2 linked regions of the Homo sapiens genome follow. The protein of the gene in region 2 interacts with the protein of the main gene of each other region in a biochemical or structural test. Each region holds a gene or a part of one and is shown on either strand. Other genes may lie near its edges.

Region 1 (7,024 bases), on a different chromosome or scaffold from region 2:
AGCAGCTACCCGTCCTCTCTATGCACACGGGAAGATGTCCACAAGCCCCATTCCCCAGTGCAATCTCACCCAGCAGCCACCCATTCTCTCTATGCACATGGGAAGATATCCATAGCGCCCCCCCATTCCCCAGTACAATCCCACCCAGCAGTCACCCGTCCTCTCTATGCACACAGGAAGATGTCCACGGGCCCCATTCCCCAGTGCAATCTCACCCAGCAGTCACCCATTCTCTCTATGCACACTGGAAGATATCCATAGGGCCCCCCCATTCCCCAGTACAATCCCACCCAGCAGCCACCTGTCCTCTCTATGCACACGGGAAGATGTCCACAAGCCCCATTCCCCAGTGCAATCTCGCCCAGTGGCCACCCGTCCTCTCTATGCACATGGGAAGATGTCCACTGCCTTTCAAATAGGTTCTCCCCATCTGGAACGCTCTCCCCTTCCTGCCACCTGCCCTGAGCACCTCCCACCACTTAACCCACCAACTTTAGACCAAAGGTGACAGTCTGCTTCTTCCCCGGCCTCGCTGAAGAATCCTATCGCCCGGATATCCGTCAGTATACAGGACTCATTCCTATTGATTCATCATTATTAATCTACGTCACTAGTTAACATGGCTAGTTAATGTGATTAACGTGCACTAGTTACACAAGTTAACATGCACGAACAGAGTGCCCTGTGCCTTCATTATTTCATGTTGCTGTCAGCACTAAGAGTTCGGGGCCACACAGACCCTCGGACGCCACTGGGTTTTGCCCACAGTCTCTCCCCGGGTCACAGCACGAGACAGAGGCGATGTTCGTATGCAGTTGCCTCCTCAGAAGGACTCCAAGAGATGCTGGCATTTCTTATGAAATAAGCGTCTTACATAGAAAGATGGCTGCTGTCACAGAAATACTAATGGACTTTGGTGCCAGGCCCCAATCGGTGTGGCCTTAGGCAAGCCACATAACCCCAGACAGCTCCGGCAACCCACTGGGAAGCTCTAGAAGGAAGAACCCAGAGCAGGTCTGGAGAGACAGGGAGAGACGGCCCTGAAAGAGAGAGGTGTGTGGCCCGGGCCTGGGGGTCCCAACACCCCGCAGGGTGCTCATGGGGATGGAGACTGGGTGCAGCCACCACTCATCCTTGGTTTCTCGTGGGAGCAGGAACCCTTTCTAACAACAACCCCAACCTGACTTTAAATTAACCAGTTCCACCTCCTACAGACCTGTGGACCACAGAAACACATCCAGGTGTGAGATGCTGCCGTCAGCGTGGGCCCCCATGTTGCCGCCTTTGGCCCTGGTCATCTCGTCCGTCAAGAGGGCCAGCGTCTGTCCTTGGGGGTCACGGTCAGGCGGTCCCCCTGCTCTTCACAGCCACTGTCTGGCCTCAAGGGTCAGTTATTCCTGAAGACGAATGGGGACAGCTGTGTGTGCTGGAAGTAGGGCCTCACCCAAAGAGGGCTCAGATGTGGAGAATGTGACACCGGGAGAGCTCAGGTCACCCTGTTCTTCCCACCGCACACATCTCCAAGCCAGAGAGGTCTGCTCGGTGTCCCAGACCCCGGGTGCCCACACCCAGGCTCATATACCCATTCACCCTGGGCACCGAGGGACCTGGTTTTGAGGAAAAGGACATAGTTGGCCAGCAGTGGGCACCCTGGGGCTGGCATCAAGGAGGCTAGAACTGTGGGAACCTACTGCGAGGTAAGGGGCTGGAAGAGCTGGGAGCCTGCACCTGCTCTGGACCTGGATCTGCCAGTCCTCGACTCTCCTGGAGGCCTCAAGTGACAGGCAAGGCCCCATCAGCACTGCCCAAAGTCCCGTCCATCACACACCACCCTCAGGACACTTTCGCCAGAACCGCCTCCACCCCAGACTGTTATTTATTCCACGATTTTCTTCAAGGCCCCTTTTATTTTGAAAGATCTGTTTTTTAAAAGAAAACTGCAGCCTTGCCCCAGTGGGGACCATGTCTGCATCAGAAGGAAAGTCGGCAGGTGCGCATCGGGGCACACTCCTGCAGCTAGGGGGCTGCTGTCTCTGCTCAGCACGGGGAGGCCGGTGCCTGGGTGGCCCCAGGCCTCAGCAGCATGAGCTTTTGCTCCTCACCTTCCACCAGACGGCTGGGAAGGGAGTTGAGTGCGGACTGAGCTATTTGCCGCCTCCTCCAGGCTCCACTTGAAATCGTCCTTTGCAGGTGGTCATTGTCCTTCTTTCAGGATAACCCAAGGTCCCCCAGCCCTGGGGCCATGGGCGTCCAGCTAATTGGGCATCTTCCCTTTTCTCTCTCTAGGCCGGCCGAGCGAGGCCCTGGGACCGTGACCTGCAGGGGCAGTTGCCACCTGGGGTGGGTGGGAGGGGGAACAGTGGCCTTTCTGGAGCTGGCGCTGCCTTCCAAGGAGCCCTGCTCCCAAGGAACAGACACGGTGGCTGTGCCCTCCCAGGTACCTGCAGGCAGCTCCCTCTCGTGGGCTGACCCAGCGGAAGCCCTTTGTTCCTTGAAGCTCACCCGCTGGTTAGTCCTGGATTCTAGCTGGACTCATTCTTCCCCTTTTGGCAGATCAATCAGTGTCAAGAACTTTGGTCCTGCAGAGTCATTTTTCTTTGTTCAGGCATGTTCTCCCAACCACAGTCTTTGTCCCAATCTGGATGGAGCAATTATGAAGTCTGTATTTCAGTCCAGAAGCTGCCCGAATCCTCACATGCCAGTGGGATGTCATTCATTCTTTGCATCCATAATTGTGCATGATAGAAATTTAATTATCGCCAGCCCCAGCCCAAGGCACTGCATGCCCGATTTCAAGCTGAATAGAGGTAGATAATATCCCAAGACTCTTTAAAGGTGGCAATGGCCGGTTACCAGGCAGCCAGGAGCCCAGCTATAAATAAACCTCCGCTGGCCCTAACCAGCTGTGCTGTAGACCACGTGGCGCTCCATGAATTGGATTGGGTGGTTCTGAGCAGGAGAGATTTAATGGAACCGTTCCGAGGGAAGGCTTTGGAGACTCGCAGGCATCGTTCTCCATTACAACAATATTTCTGGGCTCACGTTTAATAGTAAGATGAATGACTTGAGATTAAAGTGAGCACCCAGGGGCCGGACAGCTGAGGGGACAGAACTCAGAGCCTGGAGCACGCAGGTGCTAATCTCGGACAAGCCTCCTGCCCTAAGAGCCTTGGTTTCCCTCGCTGTGGAGCGGTGGTTGGAAGGCAGGGCTGGCCTTTGAAGGCTACCCCTGTTCTTGGTTGCAGGACCTGTCTAGGGGCACCAGGCTCTAAACCTGCCTGATTGGCTTGGCCACGCCAAGGGCCTAGCCAGAGGCTGCTATCTCAAGCAGCTGGGTCTTCACCCAGATCCTCCAACTGGAAGTTCGTACTCAGAAGGGCCCTCGGAACAGCCGTGGCTGAGTCAGGCCAGCCAGGCAGCAGCAAGCGGGGTCAGCAAGCAGGTCAGCCCCCTTCTAGGACAGATCACATCCTCCTGGCCTAGGCCAGCCCTCTTGTGCCGTTCCCTGCAGACCAGGAGACCTGGACCTGGACATGGAGCAGCTCCCATGGCACACTTGGTTCACAGGTGAGGGTCCCCTGCTTCCTCAGGAAGACAGACCTCTTCACAAATGAGAACTCACCTGTGAGCATCTCCAAGCCCAAGGCAGCAGGGAGAATAGGGCCCAGCATCTAGACTGAGACCCTCATGAGGCTCAGGCACCTGCCCAGCCCTGGCTTCCCCAGATGAGAAGGATCAGCCCACCTTGAAATGCTGCTGCTGTACAAAGACCCCACCCAGTAGGAGAGCTTCCCCCAAAATGCTGCAGTGTTGGAGACCCTGCCCAGCAGGTGCGCTGTCAGGCTCCGCTCTCACCTCTTTACTCGTATTTGCACATTTAAGCCCCAACAACCCTGTGAGGCCAGATGTATTTGGGAACTGCAGGTATTTCGATGACAAAGGCACACGTGGTGCATGGTGTGGATCATGGCATGCCCACACGGGTCTAGGGCAGAACCCCATAATTAAACCCACTCCTGTTCCTCAGAGGAACATGTGACTATTCAATGTAACAGAGAAAAATCAGGACTTTTAACTAGCCTCGACAATTTAGGTTTTGCCCCTAAATACGTTCAGCCTGAGTCAGTTTTCGCTAGTGAATGGGTTTTGCTTGGCATTCAGATTTGTAAGTCAGAGTCCAGATTATACCAGGTCCAGATTATAACCTTCTCTGTGTTCTCGGTGAGAAACCAGGTGCTGGAGGCGTTAATCCATTTGCCCACTTCCACTCTGGCTAATGGCTGGCAGAGCCAGGATTCACCCCCAGATCTCCTGGGCCAGAGCCTGCTGTCCTGCCTGGGTGATGCGGCTGTGTCTGCCCATCGTCCTTGCAGGCCCTGCTTGGCCCTGCAGAATGACTGAGCAGCCAGCCTGTCCTTGGACGGGTCCCCACCCCAGAAGACTGGATGAGAACCAATGTGGCCAGCATGGTCTAGGAGGCGAGCGAGCGAGATCAGCTGGGGCAGGCCTTCAGTAGGCACAGGAATTAACCAGGACACACCCAGGCGGAGGCCACACCAGAATCCTGGGGTAGGGATTCCCTGGCAAGGGCTCTGTCCACACCCCTGCAATGTCAGGCAGCCTGGGCACCACTGCCCCGGGACAGCTGGACCAAAGAGGGGTGGCAGTGAGCCAAGCCTAGCTTGTCCAGATGGACAAAGCACTCCTAAGGTGGGCAAAGATGCCCCAGGTCCCAGGGGGCCCCACACTCTCCCTGAAGCTGCTCTGGGAGCTCCTGGCACAGAACTCCCACACCTCTTCAGTGTTGGTGTTGGAAAGCTGACCGGTCGGTGAGGGAGGTGGCGAGCTGCAGTTGCCTGCCAAGGGCCTGGTGGCCTTTGGAATCCACAAAGCCCTCCCTCTGCTCAGACCCTGCCTGTGCACACGAGGGGACTGTTGTGGAAGGCCACGCACAAAGTACTAGTTAATATTTAACAAGCTTGCTCACATGCACATCTCATCCTATCCTTGCATTGGTCCCACGCAGCGAGATCCCACTGGACAGATGGGGAAAATGAGCTGGAGAGAAGCTCATACGGACAGCGGCACTGGGGACTTTCTAACTTGCGTGCTGCTCCTCCCGAACGCCCTGGCTGGTGTGCACGGCTCTCTCATTCCTCTCCCTGCCAAGACGGACCCACCTGGAAGGTAAGCTGCCCGACAGACCCTGTGGAAGGTCCTCAGCCCCTCCCAGTGGAGCCCCCTCCTCTCCACACGGCCTGGCTGGCGTGCACGGCTCTGAAGTGCTCGTTCCTCCTCAGGATCGGGCACTGTGCGTGTGTGTCTCTTCCTGGGGCTGTCAGGTCCACAGAGGCAGCAGATCTCGTTGAGGCTGAACTCATCCTCAACTCCCCACCACCCAGAAAGGGGGTCTGACATGCAGGAGGTGCCAGTAAAATCTGCTGAATGGACAAACATGTTGATCAATGCATCGGATATTTCCTTAATGGCCATGCTCACTCTCAGGGGCAGAAGGGACGTTCTGGCTGTGGCTGTCTGCAGGACTGTTCCCCAGCACAGCTGAAAGCCCTCAGACCGCTGCAGGGGCAGGAGAAAGGCAGCGCTTTCACGGAGGGGGGCCTGGAGGGGGGCAGGGGTTCAGGTTACTCCCAGGCAGCATGGAGGGAAGAGGACTCCCAGCTTGTCCAGCTGATCTCTGTTATGAGGTGAGCTGATCAAGGGGTGGGGAGAGAGCTGCAAGTTCTGTCTCCCCATGACCAGGTGAGTGCCCAGCAAACAACTCAGCACCCGGCAGAGAGAGCCAGAAACAGCCCCGAAGAGCTCAGGAGAACCTACCTGCTGGCCTGAAAGGGGACACCTAAGTCCTGTGTCAGCAACTGGACAGAACCCCAGGCTGCTGGGACCCTTTCAGCACCAAGGTTGCTTCTGAGACACACATGAAGCTAATGCCTGGGACTGCTGGCCTCATCACACAGCGCAAAGAAAGCCCTGCCTTCAGGCTGTCATGGCCTCTGCACCTGCCCACAGCTGTGTGCACCCAGGCCCACTCCCTGCAATCCCCGGGGAGCAGCTGCTCCCACTAAAGGGCCTCAGCCCCGCCCTCACTACCTCTCCAAGCACTGGTGACAAATGGGACCTTCACAAACAATCGCCTACAAGCTGAGAACAATGGCACCAAACCTCCACGCTCAGAAGCTGCAGTGGCATATTTTCCTGAAATCAGCAACTGGATGCCCTTTTTTGTCCAATTCAGCAGATCCCAAAGTACCTGGAGATGTTGCCTTCAAACTCCTCCATCTGGGAGGCCCAGGCCTCCGTCCTGAGCCCTGCCTATGTCTCCTCAGTATGAAACTGCACAGCGCCTTGCTGAGGTCTGACGAAGGACGGCTTCAAAACCACAAGAAGCAGGCTCATGGCTGTCTCCCCACCCAGCCAGGGTCGTGTGTAGAAAAGCAGGAGAGTTCCATGCACACGCTTCCGGTGGAGGGGTCACCGCCGCCAGAGATACCCCTCTATTCCTCTACCCCAGGAGGGAAGGACTCTGTCATCCAGTTGGCACCCCCGGGACCACCCAGGTGAGGACGCAGAGCGCAGTGGACCGGCTGTCCAGGCGTCTCCCCGCTCATCGTGCGGCAGATCAGGAGCACATCCAGTGTGAGAGCACACGAGACGCGAGCCCTCTGTCCCTCCTCGCTGCCCGTGCAGATTGCTGCAGGAGGTGACGCTGCCGTAATGAGCAACGGCCTCCCAGACCTCTCTAACACATAGCCTGCCCCAGCAGCCCTGATGCCACACAGCCGGCACACAGACGGCCCTGAGTGCACCCAAGGACACCTACCCACGCTGGTGATCCTCTGGGAGCTGAGGTCGTGCAGCAGGGCCTCGATGGCCGGGTTGTGTCTGGAGTACAGCTCGTACCGGTTGATACCAATGTGGAACTTGAGCCAGTTGGGATAGGAGTCCACGGCCGCCTCCCCGGGGGAGAGGAATTCTGCACCTTCAGCACCCGCATGCGGCCTGCAGG
Region 2 (7,024 bases):
AATCTCTTGATCTTGTGATCCGCCCCCCTTGGCCTCCCAAAGTGCTGGGATTACAGGCGTGAGCCACCGCACCCAGCCTTGTTTGTTTTTTTTAAAGAGTGGTTGAGGCTGGGCGTGGTGGCTCACACCTGTAATCACAACACTTTGGGAGGCCGAGGTGGGTGGATCACCTGAGGTCAGGAGTTCAAGACCAGCCTGGCCAACATGGTGAAACCCTGTTTCTGTTTCTACTAAAAATACAAAAATTAGCCGAGTGTGGTGGCATGCACCTGTAGTCCCAGTTACTCGGGGCTGAGGCAGGAGGATTGCTTGAGCCTGGGAGGCGGAGGTTGCAGCGAGCCGAGATCCTGCCACTGCAGAGTGAAACCCTGTCTCAAAAAAAAAAAAAAAGAAGGAAAAGAAAAAAAGAAATGGTTGAGTGTCATGGTTTTTGGATGTCCAATGGCTGGTTCCCATCCTTGCTCTGCCACTTGCTAGCTGGTACCCTAGACCAGTCACAACCCCTCAAGGGGTCTCAGTTTTCACATTCATAAAATGGGGATAATCATAAAACCCTTGTTGTCAGGATTTTGTGGAAAGTGAATGAATTAATACAGTTAAAGTGCTTAGGGCATGGCCTGGCATCTAGTAAGTAGGCACTACATGTTAGTTTTTATTATGGTTATTATTGTAAGCATCAGACTCAGTCGTGGGATCACCTCCTCCAGGAAGCCTTCCCTGATTGCCCCAGGTTCAAGCTGTCTTCTGGGCTTCCCTAGTGCTGTCCGTGACTTCTTTGGATCATGTCTGGCCCAAGATGGGGGTTCTGAAAGAACATGCCCTCAGGTGTTGGACTCTTCCCTCTCTTCCAGATGTACAGGTGGATCATCTGAATCTCCTGAAACAGTTTGAACACCTGGACCCTCAGAACCAGCATACATTCGAGGCCCGCGACCTGGAGCTGCTGATCCAGACGGTAATGGGAGTGGGTCCGGAGGCAGAGGATTGAGGGTAGCTTTGCGGAAGGGGAGAAGGGGACAGAGTCCCAGACGTGAGCCAGCTCACCATTCCTGCTGGTGTTCTCTGAGGTTGGAGGCTGGTAGAGGGCTGAGTCGTTTCTTTTCTTTTCTTTTTTTTTTTTTTTTTGAGACGAAATCTCGCTGTTTTCCCCCAGGCTGGAGTGCAATGGCACAATCTCGGCTCACTGCAACCTCCGCCTCCCGGGTTCAAGCGATTCTCCTGCCTCAGCCTCCCGAGTAGCTAGGATTACAGGTGCCTGCCGTCACGCCCAGAAAATTTTTGTATTTTTAGTAGAGACAGGGTTTCACCATGTTGGCCAGGCTGGTCTCGAACTCCTGACCTCAGGTGATCCACCCGCCTCAGCCTCCCAAAGTGCTGGGATTACAAGTGTCAGCCACCGCACCCAGCTCTTCTTATAGTGATACCCACCGTAATCTAGCAGGCCATCATCTTAACTAATTACATCTGCAAACACTCTATTTCCAAATAAGATCACATTCTGAGATTCCAGGTGGACATGAATTTGGGAGTGTGGGGGGAGTATACTGTTCAACCTGGTATTGTTAACTCCATTTTACAGAGGTGGAAACTGAGGCACAAAGAGGCTGAGTAACTTGCCCAGTGTCACAGAGCTTATGAGATTTGGTCACAAAGCAAAGCCTAGATTTGAACGCTGGGCAAAATAGTTAGAAACCTCTTGTTCTTTTTTTGGTTTATTTTTACTTTTTTTTTTTTTTTTTTTACCTGAGACAGCGTCTTGCTCTGATGCCCAGGCTGGAGTGCAGTGGCATGATCACAGCTCACTGCAGCCTCAACCTCCTGGGCTCAAGCAATCCTCCCACCTGACCCTCCTGAGTAGCTGGGACCAGAGGTGCAAGCCACCGCACCAGGCTAATTTTAAAAATTTTTAGTAGACACAAGGTCTCGCTGTGTTATGTGAGTTAGTCTTGAACTCCCGGGCTCGAGTGATCCTCCCACCCTAGCCTCCCAAAGTGCTAGGATTCCAGGCGTGACCCACCTCTCCTAGTCTGACCTTATGTTCTTGGCCACCTAGCTGTACCTGAAATACATAAATACTAAGTTCACCACATATGTTGTTCCTATTTACTTATTCCTCCAAGATCTGGAGATTGTGGAGGACTTGAAAGAGGTGGGTTGAAGTTGCTATTGTATAACCGTCCCAATCTGTTTTGAATAAAGAGAAGAAAGTGTGTTATGGGGCAGGAGCAGTCATGGAAACCAAAAAGGGCGACATCAGGCTGTGCGCGATGGCTCACGCCTATAATCCCAGCACTTTGGGAGGCTGACGTGGGCGGATCACCTGAGGTCAGGAGTTTGAGACCAGCCTGGCCAACATGGTGAAACCTCGTTTCTACTAAAAATACAAAAATCAGCTGGGCCTGGTGACACATGCCTATAATCCCAGCTACTCGAAAGGCCGAGGCAGGAGAATCACTTGAACCCGGAAGACAGAGGTTGAAGTGAGGCAGTGAGCAGAGATTGTGCCACCGCACTCCAGCCTGGGCAACAGAGCAAGACTCCCTCTCAAAAAAAAAAAAAAAAAAAGGGACATTAGGACACGAGACGTAAGAAAGACAGGTAGAGGCTGGGGCTGCCCTCAGCCAGGTTCAGGGCCAAGGGCCTGCCATTTACAGGCTGGAATTGGGGGCTGGGCAGAGGGGGCAGAGGGGAATGACCCTGTGCCTTTCCCCAGGCCACCCGGGACCTTGCCCAGTACGACGCAGCCCATCATGAAGAGTTCAAGCGCTACGAGATGCTTAAGGAACACGAGAGACGGCGTTATCTGGAGTCACTGGGAGAGGAGCAGAGAAAGGAGGCGGAGAGGAAGCTGGAAGAGCAACAGCGCCGGCACCGCGAGCACCCTAAAGTCAACGTGCCTGTGAGGACCCCATTTGTGCCCATCCACTCCCTACCACATCCAGTTCAAACGCAAGACAAGAAAGCAGTTAAAGAACTACAATTCCCAGGGGCCCTTGAGGCAAAAAAACTCCCTGTTACTGTACCTGGCTGCCCCAGGGTCTGCTGGGAGTTGTAGTTTTCTTAGTTTTCTTGCTTGAGGGAGATGATGTTTGTTGGATGAGGGTAAAGGGATATTTGGTTTTATCCCATGGCATCCAGACTTCTTGCTCATGAGCTCCTGGCTCTCCCCTCCACAGGGCAGCCAAGCCCAGTTGAAGGAGGTGTGGGAGGAGCTGGATGGACTGGACCCCAACAGGTTTAACCCCAAGACCTTCTTCATACTGCATGGTAAGGTGGGGAGGGAGTTCCAGAGCCAGGATGAACCCTAGATTCTGACCCTTCTAGGACCTGAATGCTAAGAGGGGTGTGTCTGTCCCAGGAGGGCTTAGTCAGGCCCAAGAGCCAAGCCTATGTCCCCTGGTTGACCAGACAGCCCTGCCTCTCCCGACTACAAGGCTAGGATCTGCATGGAAGGGTTGGGCCTCTTTTCTAGCAAACACCAGACCTCGGGGTTCTAAGGACAGCTGGTGTCCTCTGTAAGCAAACCAGGCTTGGCTAGGCCTGGGCCCTCTGCCCACAGCAGCCCAGGAGAAGCCCTGGTCCACTCTGGGAACCCTGTCGCTAGGAGTGGGTTGTTCCCTAAGAACCAGGCCTCCAGAAGCCTGGAAAACCCTTTCTCTTTTTCTTTTTCCTTTTTTTTTTTTTTTTTGAGATGGAGTCTTGCTCTGTTGCCCAGGCTGGAGTGCAGTGGCATGACCTCGGCTCACTGCAACCCCCTGCCCTCCGCCTCCCGGGTTCAAGTGATTCTCCTGCCTCAGCCTCCCGAGTAGCTGGGATTACAGGCATGCACCACCATGCCCGGCTAACTTTTGTATTTTTAGTAGAGATGGGGTTTCACCATGTTGGCCAGGCTGGTCTCGAACTCCCAACCTCGTGTGATCTGCCCCCTCAGCATCCCAAAGTGCTAGGATTACAGGCGTGAGTCACTGCGCCCGGCCTCGAAAGCCCTTTCTCTATGGTGGATCAAAGGCACACTCCCCTCAGTCTGTCTCTTCCTGTCTGGAAATGTGGCCTGGGGTTGCCAAGCCCCCTCAGGTATGCCAAGCACCCTGTCCCAGAATCTGTAGCCGGTCAGATAAGCTTAGCAAGGCCTGACTCATTCATTCAGCAAACCTTTCCTAAGTTCCCTCTAAGGACCAAGCTTTGTCAAGACCCCGTGGATACAACTGTAAACAAAACAAAGTACCTCCCCCTCAGAGCCAGTGATCAGGCACACAGATCATACCATACTTTAGTAACTCCACGAGACTGTACAGTATGAGAGGTGCTAGCATTTTACGTAAGCTGCCAATTAAATTAACGTACCATTGAAAACAAGATGCGTCCTGGGCTGGGTGTAGTGGCTCATGTCTGTAATCCCAGCACTTTGGTAGGCCAAGGTGGAAGATGGCTTGAGCCCAGGAATTTAAGACCAGCCTGGACAACAAAGTGAGACCCTGTCTCTATTTAAAAAAAAAAAATAGACCAGGCGTGGTGGCTCACGCCTATAATCCCAGCATTTTGGGAGGTTGAGGTGGGAGGATCACCTGAGGTCAGGAGTTCAAGACCAGCCTGGCCAACATGGTGAAACCCCATCTCCACAAAAATACCAAAATTAGCTGGGCATGATCGTGAGTGCCTGTAATCCCAGCTACTCAGGAGGCTGAGGTGGGAGAATCACTTGAACCCGGGAGGCAGAGTTTGCAGTGAGCCAAGATCGTGCCATTGCACTGCAGCCTGGGTGACAGAGCAACACTCCATCTCAAAAAAACAAAGAAAAAAATAAAAATTAAAAGTTAAATAAATAAAGATACATCCCTATTTCAGGGGTGATAAAATAGAAGAACACAAAAGTGCATCTCAGAATCAACGAAGGTTCTAGGCCGGGTGTGGTGGCTCACGCCTGTAATCCCAACACTTTGGGAGGCCTAGGCGGGTGGGTCCCTTGAGGCCAGGAGTTGGAGACCAGCCTGGCCAACATGGCAAAACCCAGTCTCTACTAAAAATACAAAAATTAAAAAACAAAACAAAAATTAGCCAGGCATGGTAGTGCTCACCTATAGTCCCAGCTACTCAGGAGGCTGAGGTAGGAGAATCGCTTGAACCCGGGAGGCGGAAGGCGGGGGTTGCAATGAGCTGAGATCACACCACTGCACTCCAGCCTGGGCAACAGAGTGAGACTCTGTCTCAAAAAGCAATAGAAAGTAAAAAAGAATTAGAAGATTCTGTAATGGGGTCTCAGGTAGTGACGTGTACTACCTCGCAGCCTTGACCACCCAGGTTCAAGTGATCCTCCCCCTCAGCCTCCCAAGTATCTGGGACCACAGGCACGTACCACTATGCCTGGCTAATTTTTTTAATTTTTAGTAAAGGCAAGGTTTTACCATGTTGCCCAGGCTGGTCTCAAACTCCTTTGCTCAAGCGATCCACCTATCTTGGCCTCCCGAAGTGCTGGGGTTACAAGCATGAGCCATCCCACCGGGCACCACCCCCCGTGTTTTGTTTTGTTTTTTTTTTGAGACAGGATCTTGCTATGTTGCCCAGGCTGGAGTCAAACTCCAGGCCTCAAACAATCCTCCTGCCTCAGTCACCTGAGTAGCTGAGACTGCAGGTGTGTGCCACTGCGCCCAGCTTTAAAGATGTTTAATTGTACAGTTCAATAGTATTAAGTATATTTACACTGTCATGCAACCAATTCTGAGAGCTCTTCATCTCGCACAACCGAAACCGTATCCATTAAACCACTCGCCCTCCCCTTCTTTCCCCTGCTCTCTAGCAACCACCATTCTATTTTCTGTCTCTATGATTTTGACTATTTTAGGTACTTCATGCAAGTAGAATCTTTTGGTATTTGTCGTGTGTGTGTGTGTGTGTGTGTGTGTGTTTGGCTTATTTCACTTAGCATAATGGTGAGGAACTGAAGTTTTCATTCTACTGGATATTAATTTCTATTTCAATTGCCCCATGTGGCTAGTGGCTGCTGTACTGGAGTCCCAGCACAGCTCTAGAGAGGACATTTGGGCTGGATGCGGTGGCTCACGCCTGTAATCCCAGCACTTTGGGAGGCCGAGGTGGGTGGATCCCTTGAGTCCAGGAGTTCAAGGCCAGCCTGGGCAACATGGCACAAACCCATCTCTACAAATAAAATACAAAAATTAGCTGGGTGTGGTGGCGTGCATCTGTAGTCCCAGCTCCTTGGGAGGCAGAGGTGGGAGGATCACTTGAGTCCAGGAATTCAAGGCTGCAGTGAGCTATGATCATACCAGTGCCCTCCAGCCTGGGCAACAGAGTGAAACCCTGTCTCTAAAAAATAGAAAATAGGCTGGGCTCAGTGGCTCACGCCTGTAGTCCCAGCACTTTCGGAGGCCAAGGCAGGCAGATCAGGAGCTCAAGAGATCGAGACCATCCTGGCCAACATAGTGAAACCCCGTCTCTACTAAAAATACAAAAATTATCTGGGCATGGTGGCACGCACCTGCAGTCCCAGCTACTCAGGAGGCTGAGGCAGGAGAATCACTTAAACCCTGGAGGTGGAGGTTGCAGTGAGCTGAGATCATGCCACTGCACTCCAGCCTGGCAACAGAGCGAGACTCTGTCTCAAAAATAAATAAACAAATAAATAGGCCCGGCGCAGTGGCTTACCCCTATAATCCCAGCACTTTGCGAAGCCAAGGCGGCTGGATCCCTTGAGACCAGGAGTTCAAGACCAGCCTGGGCAACATGGCAAAACCCCATCTCTATGAAAACAAATACAAAAATTAGCTGGGTGTGGTGGCGTGCATCTGTAGTCCCAGCTACTTGGGAGGCTGAGGTGGGAGGATCACTTGAGCCGAGGAGTTCAAGGCTTCAGTGAGCTACGATCACACCATTGCACTCCAGCCTGGGTGACAGAGTGAGACCCTGTCTCTAAAAAATAAAAAAATAAAAACCTTATTTAATCTTTTTAATCAGGCAGTCCCTACAGACCAGAATAGGTTCAGAGCAACTCCCTATACCTTTTTTTATT

The links. Proteins that work in one complex are often made in the same cells at the same time.
Region 1: of the proteins of NUCB1 (region 2) and FAM20C, one has a biochemical effect on the other in vitro, tested with the Homo sapiens proteins (one study listed by IntAct).

Annotation. Positions count from the first base shown.
Region 1 is NC_000007.14:195,547-202,570, reverse strand, and holds part of FAM20C (extracellular serine/threonine protein kinase FAM20C precursor), read right to left. Parts: intron 7,018-7,024; coding exon 6,839-7,017; intron 5,439-6,838; coding exon of another isoform or gene 5,071-5,438; exon of another isoform or gene 1,888-5,070; intron 1-1,887. UniProt on the Homo sapiens protein: Golgi serine/threonine protein kinase that phosphorylates secretory pathway proteins within Ser-x-Glu/pSer motifs and plays a key role in biomineralization of bones and teeth.
Region 2 is NC_000019.10:48,910,298-48,917,321, forward strand, and holds part of NUCB1 (nucleobindin-1 precursor), read left to right. Parts: intron 1-632; exon of another isoform or gene 633-851; coding exon 852-955; intron 956-2,713; coding exon 2,714-2,899; intron 2,900-3,176; coding exon 3,177-3,267; intron 3,268-7,024. UniProt on the Homo sapiens protein: Major calcium-binding protein of the Golgi which may have a role in calcium homeostasis. Acts as a non-receptor guanine nucleotide exchange factor which binds to and activates alpha subunits of guanine nucleotide-binding proteins (G proteins).